Linked DNA regions of Homo sapiens: region 2 is linked to region 1. The links come from fine-mapping of genetic effects on gene expression. Tissue or cell type: whole blood. Region 1 holds a variant in brackets; the other region holds the start of a gene. All regions are shown on one strand. Distances are from middle to middle.

The links. PIP is the estimated chance that this variant, and not a neighbour inherited with it, causes the effect.
Region 2: it holds the start of TNPO3, and the variant in region 1 is fine-mapped to the expression of TNPO3 in whole blood (TOPMed, PIP above 0.99).

What each region holds. Positions count from the first base shown.
Region 1 is chr7:128,940,247-128,948,346 of GRCh38, forward strand. It overlaps IRF5 (interferon regulatory factor 5), which reads left to right. Exons shown (of 9, transcript NM_001098629.3): 2 at 1,825-2,030; 3 at 5,599-5,788; 4 at 6,255-6,316; 5 at 6,777-6,810; 6 at 6,984-7,289; 7 at 7,483-7,875; 8 at 7,964-8,082. The coding sequence starts at 1,836. Among named protein-coding and RNA genes, the nearest start is that of IRF5, 6.4 kb to the left of the region's middle. RefSeq lists enhancers at 148-377, 488-537. The variant A/G (reference allele first, on the strand shown) is at 4,804.
Region 2 is chr7:129,051,655-129,059,754 of GRCh38, forward strand. It overlaps TNPO3 (transportin 3), which reads right to left and starts at 3,457. Exons shown (of 23, transcript NM_012470.4): 1 at 2,997-3,457. The coding sequence starts at 3,116. It also overlaps the pseudogene TPI1P2. RefSeq lists enhancers at 2,990-3,489, 4,301-4,595 and a silencer at 4,301-4,595.

The DNA of each region.
Region 1 (8,100 bases):
CAGTAGGGGGCAGGCAGCCGGACCCTCTGAGCTCCCCAACGGCACCAGCGCCTGCACGGCCTCAGCCCAGGGGGTCATTAGGGAAGCTCTCCCCGATTCTGTGCAGACAGAGCTTCCTCTGTCCACCCTTGCTCGGCCAGAATTGTGTGCCGCTGGTGACTGGCACCCCTCTATTCTAGGGCCAAGGCCTCTCAGGGGTCTACAGATACAACTATGGGTGGGTGCACACCCATGTTATAAACCACACTAAATGCACAAAAACTGTCTGCAAGTTTGGGGTGCGGGGAACAGCTCTGGGTGGGAGGTTGGAAATTTGGTCTGGGGGACCCACTCGGCTCCCTCCCTCAGCCCACAGTGAGTCTGGTTTCTGAGTTGTCCCGGTCTAGCCACTTTCGTTTCCCCTGGGGCCGGGTGGAGGCTGGGGCAGAAAGCGGAACTGAGCCCGCGTGTTCTGAGGCCAGGGCAGGGCTGGAGCGTTCTGAACACCTCCCCGTCCCAGCCCCTGGGCCAGGCAAGGGCCGGCCTTACCTCTCCTGGGTTGGTGGCAGCAGAGCTGGGCTCTGAGGGAGGCCTGCAATGTGAGACAGTAGCAGCTCAGAGGCGGCACTAGGCAGGTGCAACCCCAAAAGGTACTGGGCAGGGAATTTCAGGGGAAACTGAGGCTCCATGCTGCAAGGCCAAAGCAGGCCCAGACACAGGGAGTTCAGCTCGAACGTTTGCTCCTTACTTGCTGACCGACACATTCACTTCTGATGGGCTGTGCTGTGTAATGACCCAGTCCTTTCTGTCTTCCACCCAGGGGTCTCAAGTGAAGGGCCAAGGGCATGGGTAAGGGGAGGAGAGGGACAGAAGGGGACTCAGGACTGTGGAGAGTTTCCGGTTCTGGGCTGGAGAGGGAGTTGGGCAGGTGAAGGGGAGGAGGCAGGGTCCCTCTGGCCTGACTCCAGGGAGGCAGTGAAGCTGTGGCCTGGGAGGCGGGGCTCGTGCCCCTGGGTAGGTAGCAGTTAGAGCTGTGGCTTCTGTTTCCTGTAGCCTTCCTAACAGGCTCCGGCAGGCGTTAGGGCCTTCCTAAGTGCTACCCGAATGCGTGTCCAGTGGGAGGAGAAGGGGGAGGACCAAGAACCTAGATGAATGGCCCTAGAGAGGTAACATCTGTTTGGTGCCTGCTGTCATTGGAGGTGGGTTGAGTTGGTTGATGGGATTTCTCTAAAGATATTGAGAAACTGCTTTCCTCTGAGGGCAGGTGTCCTTGGGAGCTCCAGATGAGATTCTTGTTGAGGGCATCTCCGGAGGGAACTCTCAGGGGATGGAGGGTGAGAAAACTTGGGCAGGGAAGAATCGAACTAGGGGTGTAGACTGAGCAGGAGGCTGTCTTCGGGCTGATCCCACAGAGCGCTCGCTGTCCCAGGTAGCCAGCTTGAGACAAGACAGCCGGGCTTTTGGTGTCAGGCAGTCACTGGCTGTGGGCTGCCCCCCAAGAGCAAGGGGTGGGCCTAACCTGTGGTGTGAGTAGTGGAAGGCGGTTCTCTGGCCAACGGGCTGCTTGCTGCTGTTAGCAGTTGGAGAATGGATGCCTCTGCCCGGTAAAGGGCACCTGGGGCCGCGCCCGCAGCATTCACTAACTCGTAACTCTCCTTCCCTTCCTCCAAACACAAAATTCCATGACACTAGACAAGAAAGCTGATGCTTGGAAAAGAGAATTGGCCTTAAATACCTAGATGGACTGGAGAGACCATCCTTTGTGGTCCATAGCTTGACCTCTGAGTACCCTGTCCCCATCCACCTGCAGACCTGCTGAGGCTCCCCTCTGGCTTTCTCCTGCAGACCCCTCTGCCATGAACCAGTCCATCCCAGTGGCTCCCACCCCACCCCGCCGCGTGCGGCTGAAGCCCTGGCTGGTGGCCCAGGTGAACAGCTGCCAGTACCCAGGGCTTCAATGGGTCAACGGGGAAAAGAAATTATTCTGCATCCCCTGGAGGCATGCCACAAGGCATGGTCCCAGCCAGGACGGAGATAACACCATCTTCAAGGTAAGCCCCGGGGAGGAGGTTGGCTGGACCTCCAGGGCACCCTGTCCCCAGAAGAGGAGCGCACATAACGCACACAGGCAGCTCCTCGAGGCTGGCCACCCGCCCAGCTACCATGCTGCTGCTGATGCCGGGCCCGGACTAAGGGGATGCAGACGTAGACACAGGGTACACCTTTTTCCTTTTTTTTTTTTTTTAAGACAGAGTCTCGCTCTGTAGCCCAGGCTGGAGTGCAGTGGCACGATCTCAGCTCACTGCAACCTCTGCCTCCTGGGTTCAAGCAATTCTCCTGCCTCAGCCTCCTGAGTAGCTGGGATTACAGGCATGAGCCACCACGCCTGGCCTAGGGCACATCTTTTCTAACCTGCACCCTAGAGCATCGTGGGGACTGAGGGTCCCCAGAAGGCCTTCCCATAACTCGTCCTACTCACCCTTTGCTCGTCTCACTCCTATTACTCATGAGGACTTGTTCAGTGCACGCATATGCTAAAGGAAGCCAACGATCATCATCTTTCTAAAAATTTTATTTTTAAATTAGTATATATTTATGGGGTACACAGTGGTGATTTGATAAGCACAGTGATCAGATCAGGTACTTAGCATATCCATAATCTCAAACATTTGTCATTTCTTTGTGTTGGGAACAAACTATTTTTAATATAAGATTCAGATACATCATCAATCTTTCAATTGTTTAAATTTTCTAATTTTTTTTAGAGACAGGGCCTCACACTGTTGACCAGATTCCAATTTTTTTTTTTTTTTTTTTTTTTTTTTTGAGACAGGGTCTCACTCTGTCACCCAGGCTGGAGTGCAGTGGCTTGATCTCAGCTCACTGCAGCCTCGACCTCCCAGGCTCAGGTGAGTCTCCCATCTCAACCTCCTTGAGTAGCTGGGATTACAGGTGCCTGCCACCACAACTGGCTAATTTTTTGTACTTTTAGTAGAGACTTTGCCATGTTGCCCAGGCTGGTCTTGAACTCCTGGACTCAAGCAATCCACCCACCTCAGCCTCCCAGAGTGCTGGGATTACAGGTGTGAGCCACCATGCCCGGCCCAATCTTTTTTTTTAATTGATGTACTACAACTGTACATATATACTCTTTTTTTTTTTTTTTGAGATGAGTTGTTGCTCTGTTGCCTAGTGTTGCACCATTGGTGAGCAGTGGTGCAGTCATAGCACAACCTCCAACTCAGCTCAAGTGATCCTCCAGTCTCAGCTTCCTGAGTAGCCGTGACTACAGGTGCATGCCACCATGCCCAGCTAATTTTTTTTTTTTTTTTTGAGATGGAGTCTTGCTTTTTCACCCTAGCTGGAGTGCAATGGCACAATCTCAGCTCACTGCAACCTCTGCCACCTGGGTTCAAGCAATTCTCCTGCCTCAGCCTCCCGAGTAGCTAGGATTACAGGCACCTGCCACCATGCCCGGCTAATTTTTTTTTTTTTTTTTTTTTTTTTTTTTTTTTTTGTATTTTTGGTAAAGACAGGGTTTCACCCTGTTGGCCAGGCTGGTCTTGAACTCCTGACCTCATGATCCACCTGCCTTGGCCTCCCAAAGTGCTGGGATTACAGGCGTGAGCCACCGTGCCCAGCCTAATTTTTTGATTTTGATATTTGTAAAGATGAGGTCTCACTTTGTTGCCCAGGCTGGTCTCAAGCTCATGGGCTCAAGTGATCCTCCCACCTCAGCCTCCTGAGTAGCTGGTATCACAGGCGCAAGCCACTGTGCTCTCTCCAATAATCTTAATGCTAGGATGTACCTCGCATAATAGTTTTTGCTTACATTTTAGTTTTTTTGCACATGTGTGTATATGGAATGCAAAATTGGAATCAAGTGAATATCTTGATTTATAGCCTGGATTTTTTTCACCCAATATCAGGATCAGCTTTCCTTTCCAACATACGTCCACATCACTTTTCGTGACTGTAGAATTTCCACTGGAATGGTTTAGCACAATTTGGTCACTGAGTCTTGGTTTTTAGATACTTGAGATTGCTTTTAAAACCTGAACTTAAAAACCACATTGTCATGTAGGCTGTCTTAATGCTTCCCTTTTTTTCATCCTCAATTATTTTGGGGGTTGATTTCCTAGAGTTGAAAATTGCTGGGTCAAAGGCAATGCTTATTTTTTAAAACTTTGGGTACATATTTTCTTAGTTTTTGGGCTTGATCCTTACCTTTCCAAAATTCTTTTGCTAATCCATTTATTTTGTATAGGTAATACAGTCACAAAATTCAACATTAAAAGGCATAGAATGGTTTAGAGCAAAAAGTCTCCCTCCTTCCCTGGTTCATCACCACCCACTCCCCTCCCTAGCCTTTCCCTAGAGGCAGCCGTGTTGTCATTTTCTTGTTTAGCCTTCCTGAGAGATTTTTATGCACATGTAAGCAAATATGGAACTATCCTTTCCTCTACTTTTCATAAGAAATGCTAGATATCTGCATATTTGTCTAGACTTAATACTTCTTGACGATTGCTACATGTCAGCTTATAAACAGTTTCCTGCTTTTTCTTTTTTTGTGCTGCCCAGTATTTTTCATTCAATGGGTTGGCCGTAATTTCACCAGCCCCTCATTGATGGATGTTGCATTGGGTATTTTGGGTCATCTTTTACACACAGCACTGCTGCGAATAACTTTGTGTGTGCAATATTTTGTGTGAATGCTTCTATGATATTTAGGATGAATTCCTAGAAATCAAATAGCTGGGTTAAAAGGTAGAAAGAAATGTTGGTAACCCTCACCTCACCTAATTGCCATTCAAAATAATACCA[A/G]CAGCTCCAGTGTCTCGAGCCTGTCCTATGTGCAGGTTTAGCTCTGAGTGCTTTACGGACATCAACTCCCCTCATCTTTTTTGAGATAGGGTATCACTCTGTCGTCCAGGCTGGAGTGCAGAGCATAATCATGGCTCACTGCAGCCTTGAACTCCCCAGCTCAAGCAATCCTCTCACCTCAGCCTCCTGAGTAGCTGGGACCACAGGCACCCACCACTATGCCCAGCTAATTTTTTGTAAAGACAGGAGTCTCGTTATGTTGCCTAGGCTGGACTCCAACTCCTGGGCTCAAGCAGTCCTCCCACCTTGGCCTCCCAAAATGTTGGGATTACAGGTGCGAGCCACTGTGCCCAGCCAACATCAACCCCTTGAGTCTTCGCTGCCACTCCATGAGGTGGGCAACTGTGAGGAGATCAAGACAAAGGGAGGCAGTGACATGGCCTGGCACACAGCTGGCGGGGGGCACTTCCAGATTCAAACCCAGCCTGGCTCCAGGGTGCTCACCCTTATCCCGCACGCTGTCCTCCTTAGAGATCACACTGTTTCACCCTCCCAGGAGCAGGGACTATGGATGCATCTCATAGCCCCTAGATTTCATGTAGCTTGCTGGCAGCCTGAGGGCTGGGGCAGGACTGTGGCAGACTCCCACGCTGCAAACCAGGTCTGGGGCTCAGCGAGGCTCAGCCTGTAGCCGAAGTTCTCCCCACACAGTAGAGTCTCCTATGGGACAGGAGGCAGACTGGGGCTGTGGCAGGGATGAGGTTCTCTGTGGTCGGCTATTTCTTCCTGCCCCAGGCCTGGGCCAAGGAGACAGGGAAATACACCGAAGGCGTGGATGAAGCCGATCCGGCCAAGTGGAAGGCCAACCTGCGCTGTGCCCTTAACAAGAGCCGGGACTTCCGCCTCATCTACGACGGGCCCCGGGACATGCCACCTCAGCCCTACAAGATCTACGAGGTCTGCTCCAATGGCCCTGCTCCCACAGGTATCAGGCCTAGCCCTCTGTGGGCCACCTGGGAGGCTGTGCAATGTCCTGGCCCCCAGCCATGAGCTCTTGGGTGCAGGCAGGCCAAGGGCCCCTCTAGCAGGCAGTGGTCCAGGAAACGATGCGGGGGCTCCCGCTAGGTCATGACACCCAGGGCTTCCAGGAGTGGCTGGGATGGGTCACTGGCATATCAGGAATGGCTTGGCGTGCAGTCAGGGACCTGGGTGCTTCTTCCTTACCATTGCCCTCGTTTTGGCTTCTGGCTCCAGCCTAGGTCTCATGGCCCATGGAGTCGGGGAGGTCTTTCCCAATCCTGGTGGCTGTGCCCTCCACCTCGCCCTGTGTTGGGGGCAGCTTTGGGGAAGGCAGAAGCTGCATAGGAGCTACAGGCAGCCTCTCAGGGGATCTTGCTTCTCCTCCGACATTGACTCCTTTACTGCCCTGCTTTTCTCTCCCTGCTGTGCAGACTCCCAGCCCCCTGAGGATTACTCTTTTGGTGCAGGAGAGGAGGAGGAAGAAGAGGAAGAGGTGAGTGTGGGTTGAGGAGGCAGGTGGAGCCCTGGACGAGCTCTCTGCTGTCCCCATCGGCCTTAGGTTTCCGCAGCCCCACTCCCATGGAGCCCCGTGGCCCTCTCAATAGTTCTCCTTGTTTCTTCTCCTGGGATTCTGAACGATAGGAGCACAGTCCCCACCTGCTCCTTCCCAGGGCATTGTCATTACCCTGTGTGTGTGACCCACGCAGCAGTTGGGGCTTGGTAGGTCTGACTCCCTGCAGAAGGCAAATGAGGAAAGTGAGGCAAAGGGCTTTTCTGACCTGCCTGGGATGGACGAGCTGGGACCGGAGGCAGGGTCTTGCCTGAGCTAAACTGAGGCTAGGGGAGTTGCCTCATAGTTCTCGCCTGTTATTTCCCCAGCCCCAGGTCAGTGGAATAACCTGTCCTCCTTTCTCTCCCATCTCTTCCCTCCCTTGCTGGTGGTGTCCCTTCAGCTGCAGAGGATGTTGCCAAGCCTGAGCCTCACAGGTGGGGCCGGGAGGTGGTGGTTGGGGGTCTAGTATACAGAGAAGCTATAGGTACCATAGGTACCTGGAAGGGGGCTGATGGGAGGCTAGGGTGGCCCAGGGCTGGGAGGAGGTGTGCCTGGGAGGCAGTTCGTGGAGGTGGCACTGACAGCCGTCCACACGCACTCTCTGTAGATGCAGTGCAGTCTGGCCCCCACATGACACCCTATTCTTTACTCAAAGAGGATGTCAAGTGGCCGCCCACTCTGCAGCCGCCCACTCTGCGGCCGCCTACTCTGCAGCCGCCCACTCTGCAGCCGCCCGTGGTGCTGGGTCCCCCTGCTCCAGACCCCAGCCCCCTGGCTCCTCCCCCTGGCAACCCTGCTGGCTTCAGGGAGCTTCTCTCTGAGGTCCTGGAGCCTGGGCCCCTGCCTGCCAGCCTGCCCCCTGCAGGCGAACAGCTCCTGCCAGACCTGCTGATCAGCCCCCACATGCTGCCTCGTAAGGACCCATGGCTGGGCACGGGGAAGCAGTGCTGGGGGATTGGGGTAGGATTGGCAAGGAGGGTGGAGGGTGCTGGACTCCCTTGGGTGGGAAAAGTGGGAGGGCGGATGGGGCTGGGCCTGGCCACTGGGCTGCAGAATGGGGAGGCGTGGGGCTCAAGGACGGGATGGGCCTGCCTTCTGCCCCACAGTGACCGACCTGGAGATCAAGTTTCAGTACCGGGGGCGGCCACCCCGGGCCCTCACCATCAGCAACCCCCATGGCTGCCGGCTCTTCTACAGCCAGCTGGAGGCCACCCAGGAGCAGGTGGAACTCTTCGGCCCCATAAGCCTGGAGCAAGTGCGCTTCCCCAGCCCTGAGGACATCCCCAGTGACAAGCAGCGCTTCTACACGAACCAGCTGCTGGATGTCCTGGACCGCGGGCTCATCCTCCAGCTACAGGGCCAGGACCTTTATGCCATCCGCCTGTGTCAGTGCAAGGTGTTCTGGAGCGGGCCTTGTGCCTCAGCCCATGACTCATGCCCCAACCCCATCCAGCGGGAGGTCAAGACCAAGCTTTTCAGCCTGGAGCATTTTCTCAATGGTGAGGGCCCAAAGCTGTGATCCTCCTGGCTGCCTCTTGCCCAGGGCATGGTTCCAGCCTCTGACTAGGGACCTTGATTTTGATGCAGAGCTCATCCTGTTCCAAAAGGGCCAGACCAACACCCCACCACCCTTCGAGATCTTCTTCTGCTTTGGGGAAGAATGGCCTGACCGCAAACCCCGAGAGAAGAAGCTCATTACTGTACAGGTACATCTCCCCTATCCC
Region 2 (8,100 bases), 110 kb after region 1:
TTTTTTTGAAATGGAGTCGCGCTCTGTCGCCCAGGCTGGAGTGCAGTGACACAATATCAGCTCACTGCAACCTCCACCTCCTGGGTTCAAGAGATTCTCCTGCCTCAGCCTCCTGAGTAGCAGAGACTACAGGTGCGCACCACCACGCCCAGCTAATTTTTGTATTTTTAGTAGAAACGGGTTTTCACCATGTTGGCCAGGCTGGTCTCAAACCCCTGACCTCAAGCGATCCGCCCGCCTCAGCCTCCCAAAGTGTTGGGATTACAGGCGTGAGCCACTGCACGCCCAGCCTGGGTGGTGGCTTTTTAGTAAAGACAAGATCCAGGGTGTGATTGTGTGACCAGGTGGCTAAAGAGAATGAAGAGGTAAAGGAATCAGAAGGCCAAAGTGTTAGCTGAACTGTCAATCCAGATGCTGAAGTTGCCTAAACGTGATGTGTTACTGCTGGATATTTTCCAGATCCACTTTTCCACCCTCCTCTATCATGTTTTCTGCTCCAATAGGCTGACCTGTATAGACTTTACCAACAGGTCACTGTGCCCCTGGCTTCCGGTTGGGTTTGGCCAATGGGGAATCCCAGCAAGAAATTAAGAGAACAGGGTCAGGATATTCATTCCTCCAGCTTCATTCTCTCAAGGTCACCTGAAACTAGCTATGTCCCTTCGGCTGAAAGTCACCATTCCTCTCAAGGCAGCCAACTCCATACTTTTCAAGTAACTATTCCCTCTTTTATGGGATGTTAACCGTTCAGCTATAGGTTACCAAACTATTTCTTGTCACACCACTATACCTAAATCTTTATAATAGTATCTTTATAAAATAAACTCAGATTATCCTGTCAAGTGTGCCATCTGTTCCTGTCTGGACTCTGACTATTAACTGTGATGGTGAAGATGATGTAAGGTTGTAATAGAGTATTGGAAAGTAAGGAGAGAAAAGTGACTAATACTTAAATAACAATTGCTAACATTTTAATCTCTATGTTCCAAGAACTTTTCTAACCTCTTCGTAGAATATTAACTCATTTAATCACAACTACCTTCTGTGGTAAGCAGAGATTTTTGTCTGGTTCATTTCCAAATCCAAACACCCAGCATAGTTGCTGGCACATGGTAAGCACTCAAATATTGATTTAAAATACACACAACAAGCAGGTTTAATTAGAAAGAGATTACTTTTTTAGTATAGTGTAGCACTTCTCCTAATTACACTTTAGAAAACTATACAAAGATCAGGGAATTGTTGACTCTCCAGAGATCACAGAAACACTAAATGAGACCATATGTGAATGATTTTCTTGTGTAGCCTACAGTGAGTCGTATTCCTTTATTTTCTGAAGAGGACTTGGGTGCCAGTTTTTTAGGTTTAATATTCAAAGTCAAAGTTGCAGCGGGGGGCGATGGCTCACATCTATAATCCCAGCACTTTGGGAGGCCGAGGCGGGCGGATCACCTGAGGTCGGAGTTAGAGACCAGCCTGGCCAACATGGCGAAACCCCGTTTCTACTAAAAAATACAAAAATTAGCTGGGTGTGGTGGCGTGTGCCTGTAATCCCAGCTACTCAGGAGGCTGAGACAGGAGAATCACTTGAACCTGGGAGGAGGAGGTTGCAGTGTGCCGAGATAGCACCACTGCACTCCTCCAGCCTGGGCAACAGAGCCAGACTCTGTCTCAAGAAAAAAAAAAAAAAATTAGTCGGGTGTCAGGGCAGGCACCTGTAATCCCAGCTACTCGGGAGGCTGAGGCAGGAGAATCTCTTGAACCCGGGAGGAGGAGGTTGCAGTGAGCTGAGATGGGACCACTGCACTCCAGCCTGGGCGACAAAGCGAGACTCTGTCTCAAAAAAAAAAAAAAAAAAAAGGCAAAGTTGCTCCATACCAAGACCAGATTTTTAAAAAGTCAAAGTTGCAAATTTTTAAATATTATGCACTTGCAGCCTAGGAGCTGATTTAATAAGGCAGAGCACCTTTAAGTATCAGTTATGAGTTAAAATAAAGGGAAGGGGGCCAAAAAAAATATGGTTGTGAGTATAAAATGCAAAAATAAAGGTAAAGGTGAGTATTTTGTCAGCCTGTAAAAAAAGCCTCTTTAGTTTTCAAAGTACTTAATTTTTAAAGTACATCCTACATTAGAACCTAAGTCAGCCAGATAACCAAGAATACACATTTACACAGAAATGAAGCACAGCAAAGGTGTGAAAATTAGGGCAGGAAGCATAAAACATGAATCAAAGAATGCAGAAATACAACAGATATAAGCTACAATTAAATATCTCACCGGATGCACACACAGTTTTATATGGAATAATCAAAGCAGCAGTGATACCCATCTTATAAATAAAAATCTAAAAGCCAGAGAAATAACAAGGTTAGAGGATTAATATGAAACAAAATGAGAACTCCAAAGATTTTCTGAAAGCAGAATTACTGTTTTTTCTTCATATTATGTTGCCACTCCAAAGCAAGGGGAAAACTCGCATGAGTAAGAATCTAGAAACCTGAGAAGTTTCGAGAAGAACAGACTCAAACTGGAGTGAAAATAGGCAAAAAGAGTGAGGCATAAGGCTACGACTGGGAGCAAAATGCCAGATGCAAGTCTTGGACACGGAGGGGAGACGAATAAAGCCTTCTTAAGCGGAAGGTGGAGAAACACTGGGGTTGGATTTGGTGGGAGGAAGACAAAACGGAAAAGCACGGCCCAAGAAGCAACGGCAAAGGGAGAACTTAAACAAGATTAGATTGATGCCACAATCGAAGAGTATAAGACCTACAAATCAGATTCTGCCGGGTGGGGAAAGGGCCAGTTCGCGACCGATCAGGTGCGACTAGTTTCCCAAAAGCGGCAAAGATGTAGCTTCGCAGCCCCACCCCACGACAGCAGCTCCTCCCCAAGGAGGACCTCACGAGGTCAACTGCCGGGCTCAGGTTCTCCCCCGGAGCCTAGGTTCCACCCCGCCCCGGCCGTGCGGCACAGAACTGCCTCTCTGGGCCCCTCACCGAACGCTGCAGCTCCCCAAGCCAAAAAGAGGCGCGCTCCTTTCCGCTGGGATCTGGGTCGTGGTAAAGCGCCTGCACTGCCTGGTACACGAGCTGCAATGTCGGCTTTGCTCCTTCCATGGTGGTGGCGGTAGTGGCGGTAGCGACGGCTCTGATTCTTCTCCGGAGGATTCCTCGGTTGCTCCGCCTTCGCGCTTCCTCACTGTCTGGGCCACGGCCGCTCCCTGACTGGCGCCATCTCCTCCTCTTTGGCCGTTACCAGGGCAGAAGGCTCTCCGTGGAAGTTGCCCCCTCGGAAACAGCTATTAGGTCGTATTCAGGTTCCTGGCCTTTTTTCCGGTTTTTCCACTTGATTCTAGACTCTTGAGTCCACAGATTCTGGCGCTCCCGTCTTCAGTCGCTGACTTGCCCTCAGAAGCCTATCTTGGGAGGCCACACACCAGTGTACCTAAGGTTCGTTTACCCGGACCGGAAGCGACAGCACCGATACCTTTGGCACACTTCCGCCTGGTACACTACAAACGGCCTCCTTCCCGGCACGCCTCCTCTTGTCTCCCCGCCCCCTCCCGGAAGTAACCCTGCCGGGCCAGGAGCCGGGAAGAAGAGCCGGTGTTCTCTCTGTTCCTCGCTAGCAGCTTGGGACATTAGCGCCGAGATGTGCCCCATATCTGAGCTGCCTTCAGCTCCTTGGAAACGGATCCAGGTTTTTCCTACCCCTTCCGACTGCCCCATCCCTCTCCAGAGAATCCTTTTCTGCCCTGGTGATCAAGGCGCGTCAATTCAACTCTCCCTAGAGTGGCCACAGTACTGGAGATCCAAAGATGACTTAAGACATGGTACCTACGCTGGCTCTAGTGGAGGAGACAGACACGTAGTCAACTGAACTATTTTACAAACCTGAAATATGTGCCACATTGAGATAAATCCAAAATGCCTAGAATCTTTGTTCAGCTCCCCTTTACTTAGTTCTTAAGCCCAAAAGAGGTCTTCATTCTGCTTACAGCTCCTGGTGCTCTAACTCCAGAGCATTTTGCATACATCTTTAGGGTTATTCTCACATTGAACTGTATTTTTGTGAATGCCTTTCTGTCCGAATCCAATACCAGTGGTCTAACAATTCACAAAAGAAAACAGAAATATTGGAAACTGTACTATGGAGAAATTAGGGACAAAAGGTAACAGTATATTGATATTAACATTGCTGCTAGTCCTTTGCACTAGTAAATAACTGCTATTTGATAAATGATCACAATGTGTAAAACACTGTAGTTACAAGATCTCATTTAATCCGCCTAACAACCTTGCCAAGTATTAATAAAACCCGTTTTAGGCGCTGACACTGACCTACAGCGCCTCAGCTCCAGCGCCATGGCGCCCTCCAGGAAGTTCTTCGTGGGGAGGAACTGGAAGATGAACGGGCGGAAGAAATGTCTGGGGGAGCTCATCGGCACTCAGAACGCGGCCACTGTGCCTGCCGACACCAAGGTGATTTGTGCTCTCGCCACTGCGTATAACGAGTTGGCCCGGCAGAAGCTAGCTCCCAAGATTGCTGTGGCTCCGCAGAACTGCTACAAAGTGACTAATGGGGCCTTTACTGGGGAGATCAGCCCTGGCATGGTCAAAGACTTAGGAGTCACGTGGGTGGTGTGGTCCTGGGGCACTCAGAAGGCGTGTCTTTGGGGAGTCAGATGAGCTGATTGGGCAGAAAAGTGGCCCATGCTCTGGCAGAGAGACTCGGAGTAATCGCCTGCATTGGGGAGAAGCTAGATGAAAGGGAAGCTGGCATCACTGAGAAGGTTGTTTTTGAGCAGACAAAGGTCATCGCAGATAATGTGAAGGACTGGAGCAAGGTCATCTTGGCCTATGATCCCGTGTGGGCCACTGGTACTGGCAAGACTGCAACACCCCAACAGGCCCAGGAGGTACACAAGAAGCTCCGAGGATGGCTTAAGTCCAACATCTCTGATGCAGTGGCTCAGAGCACTGGTATCATTTATGGAGGCTCTGTGACCAAGGCAACCTGCAAGGAGCTGGCCAGCCAGCCTGACGTGGCTGCCTTCCTCATGAGTGGTGTTTCCCTCAAGCCCGAATTCGTAGACATCATCAATGCCAAACAATGAGCCCCATCCGTCTTCCCTACCCTTCCTGCCAACCCAGGAACTAAGCAGCCCAGAAGCTGAGTGACTGCCCCTCCCCTGCACATGCTTCTGATGGTGTCATCTGCACCCTATTGTGGCCTCATCCAAACTGTATCTTCCTTTACTATGTATACCTTCACCGTGTAATGGTCGGGACCAGACCAATCCCTTCTCCACTTACTGTAATTGTTGGAACTAAATGTCACCAATGTGGCTTCTCCTTGGCTGAGAGGTGAAAGGGATGGAATTTGCTCCTGGGTCCCCTAGGCCCTAGTGAGGGGAGGAGAGAGAACCCATCCTCTCCCTTCTTACACTGTGAGGCCAAGCAGAAGCCAGGGGTGCTGCCCTCTCCCACGGTGCCAACGCCTTTGTGTGTTGTGTATGTGAGCCATCCCACATGTGAGGGAAATAAACCCCTGGCACTTAAAAAACAAACAAAAAAACGCATTTTAAAGAAAGAAAAATAGTAATGTAATTTGCCCAAGGATACAGTTCTTAAAGTTAGGATTTGAATCCAGATCAGTGTTGCTCCAAAACCTGTTAAATCACACAATCCCTATCATCTTGTGCATTCGTTTGCTTCTGAATTGTTAGTCAAGGAATTTTTAACTGCCAACAACATGATGAAAACAATGTTACTGCACAGAGTTGATACAATTTTAGACAGAAAAAAGAAACTTGATATTTTGGTTACCTAATCCATTCATTCATTAAAAAAAAATTTAGTGCTGGGCTTGGTGGCTCACAACTGTGTAATCCCGGCATTTTGGGAGGCCGAGGCAAGAGGATTACCTTTGAGGCCAGGAGTTCAAGACCATCCTGGGTAATGAAATGAGACTCCATCTCTACAAAAAAAAATGCAAAAAAATTAGCAGGGCATGGTGGTGGGTGCTTCTAATCCCAGCTACTCAGGAGGCTGAGGTGGGAGTATTGCTTTAGCCCAGGAGGTGGGGGTTGCAGTGAGCAGAGATTGTGCCACTGCACTCCAGCCTGGGAAACAGTGAGACCATATCTCAAAACAAATTTTTTTGTGTGTATCAAAGGACACTATCAAGAAAGTGAAGTAACAGTCCACAACATGGAAGGGAATGTGCAAATAACATATCTGATAACTGATTAGTATCCAGAGTATATAAAGAACTCTTACAATTCAACAATGAAAAGACAACTCAGTTTTTGGGTTTGTTTTGTGTGTGTGTGTGTGTGTGTGTGTGTTTTGTTTTTTTGTTTTGAGTTGGAGTCTTGCTCTGTTGCCCAGGCTAGAGTACAATGGCACAATCTCAGCTCACTGAAACCTCCACCTCCTGGGTTCAAGCGATTCTTGTACCTCATCCTCCCACGTAGTTGGGATTACAGGTGCCCACAACCATGCCTGGCTGATTTTTGTATTTTTAGTAGAAACAGGGCTTCACCACGTTGGCCAGGTTGGTCTCGAACTCCTGACCTCAAGTGATCCACCCGCCTCAGCCTTTCAAAGTGCTGGAATTACAGGCGTAAGCCACCATGTCTGGCCTCAGATAATTCAGTTTTTTAAATGGGCAGTGAATTTGAATAGACATTTCTTCCAAGAAGATATACAAATGCACATGAAAAGATGCTCATCATTAGCCCTCAGGGAAATACAAATCAAAACTGCAATGAGATACAACTTCACACCCACTAGAAAAACTAAAATTTAAAAAATGATAAATGCTGGTGAGAATGTGGACAAATCAGAACTCTCATGCACTATTCATGGGATTGTATCATGGTGCGGCCATGTTGAAAAAGTTTGGCAGCTCTTCAAAAAAATGTTAAACATAGAATTATCATATGAACCAGCAGTTCTACACTTAGGTATATACTCAAGAGAAATGATAACGTGTGTGCATACAAGCACTTGCACGTGCATATTCATAGCAGCATTATTCATAATAGACGGCAGAAACAGCCCCAATATCCGTCATTTGATGCATGGATAAACAAAGTGTGCTATATCCATACAATGAAAGGTTATTTGACCCTTAAAAGGAATGAAGTACAGATAGATGCTACAATATAGATAAACTTGAAAAATTATGCTAAGTGAAAGTGGCCAGACACAAAAGGCACATTAATTACGCGATTCTATTTACATAAAATGTTCAGAGTAGGCAAAATTCTAAATATAGACAGTAGATTGGTCATTTCCAGGGTTGGTTTTTTGTTTTGGGTTTTGTTTTTTTTTGTATTGATGGAAATAAATGCTCTGGAATTATTGACGATGTTCAGAAAAACCTCATGAATATATTAAAAACCACTGGCATATGTTTTTTATATGTTTTAAAAGGATGAGTTTTATGGCAATGTGAACTATATTTCAATAAAACTTATTTTTAAAAGTTCTATGGTTAGGAATTATTAAAACACCACATGGATATTTAGCTAACAGTTGGAGAAAAAAGAAAAAAAAATAGAGGTGATACCTAACCCAGAGTAGAGAGATTGGTAACACCATCTGGAGAAATTATGTCTAAACTGAGACCAGACTGATAGATAAATAGGAAGCAATTAGGCAAAGGGTTTAGTATTGTAGGCAGAGGCAACAGTATGAAAGCCTGGAGGCAAGGGAAAAAATTACCTTCTGAAGACTGAAAGTAGCTGAAGGATAGAGTTGACATTGGGTAGGAGTAAGAAATGAAGCTAAACAGTGTTTAACCCATCTTTGTGACCTCATGCCATTACCTGATACATAGTGGGTGCTTAGCAAATGTCTTAAGTGACATGTTTCTTTGTTCCTTAGTCTTAAAAAAAAAAAAAGTCTAGTTTGACATGAAATGGCTTGGGCAGGGAAGGTGGCTAGAACAGAAATAAGAAAAGATTGTAATAATCGTGGTGAGGAGTGATGGTAGCCTGGAGTAAAGTGTTGGCGGTGGGCATGGAGATAGAGAGGTATTTAGGAACTTCAGAGGAAGAATCTTGATATGGTGATTACTTAAGCTGCAAGG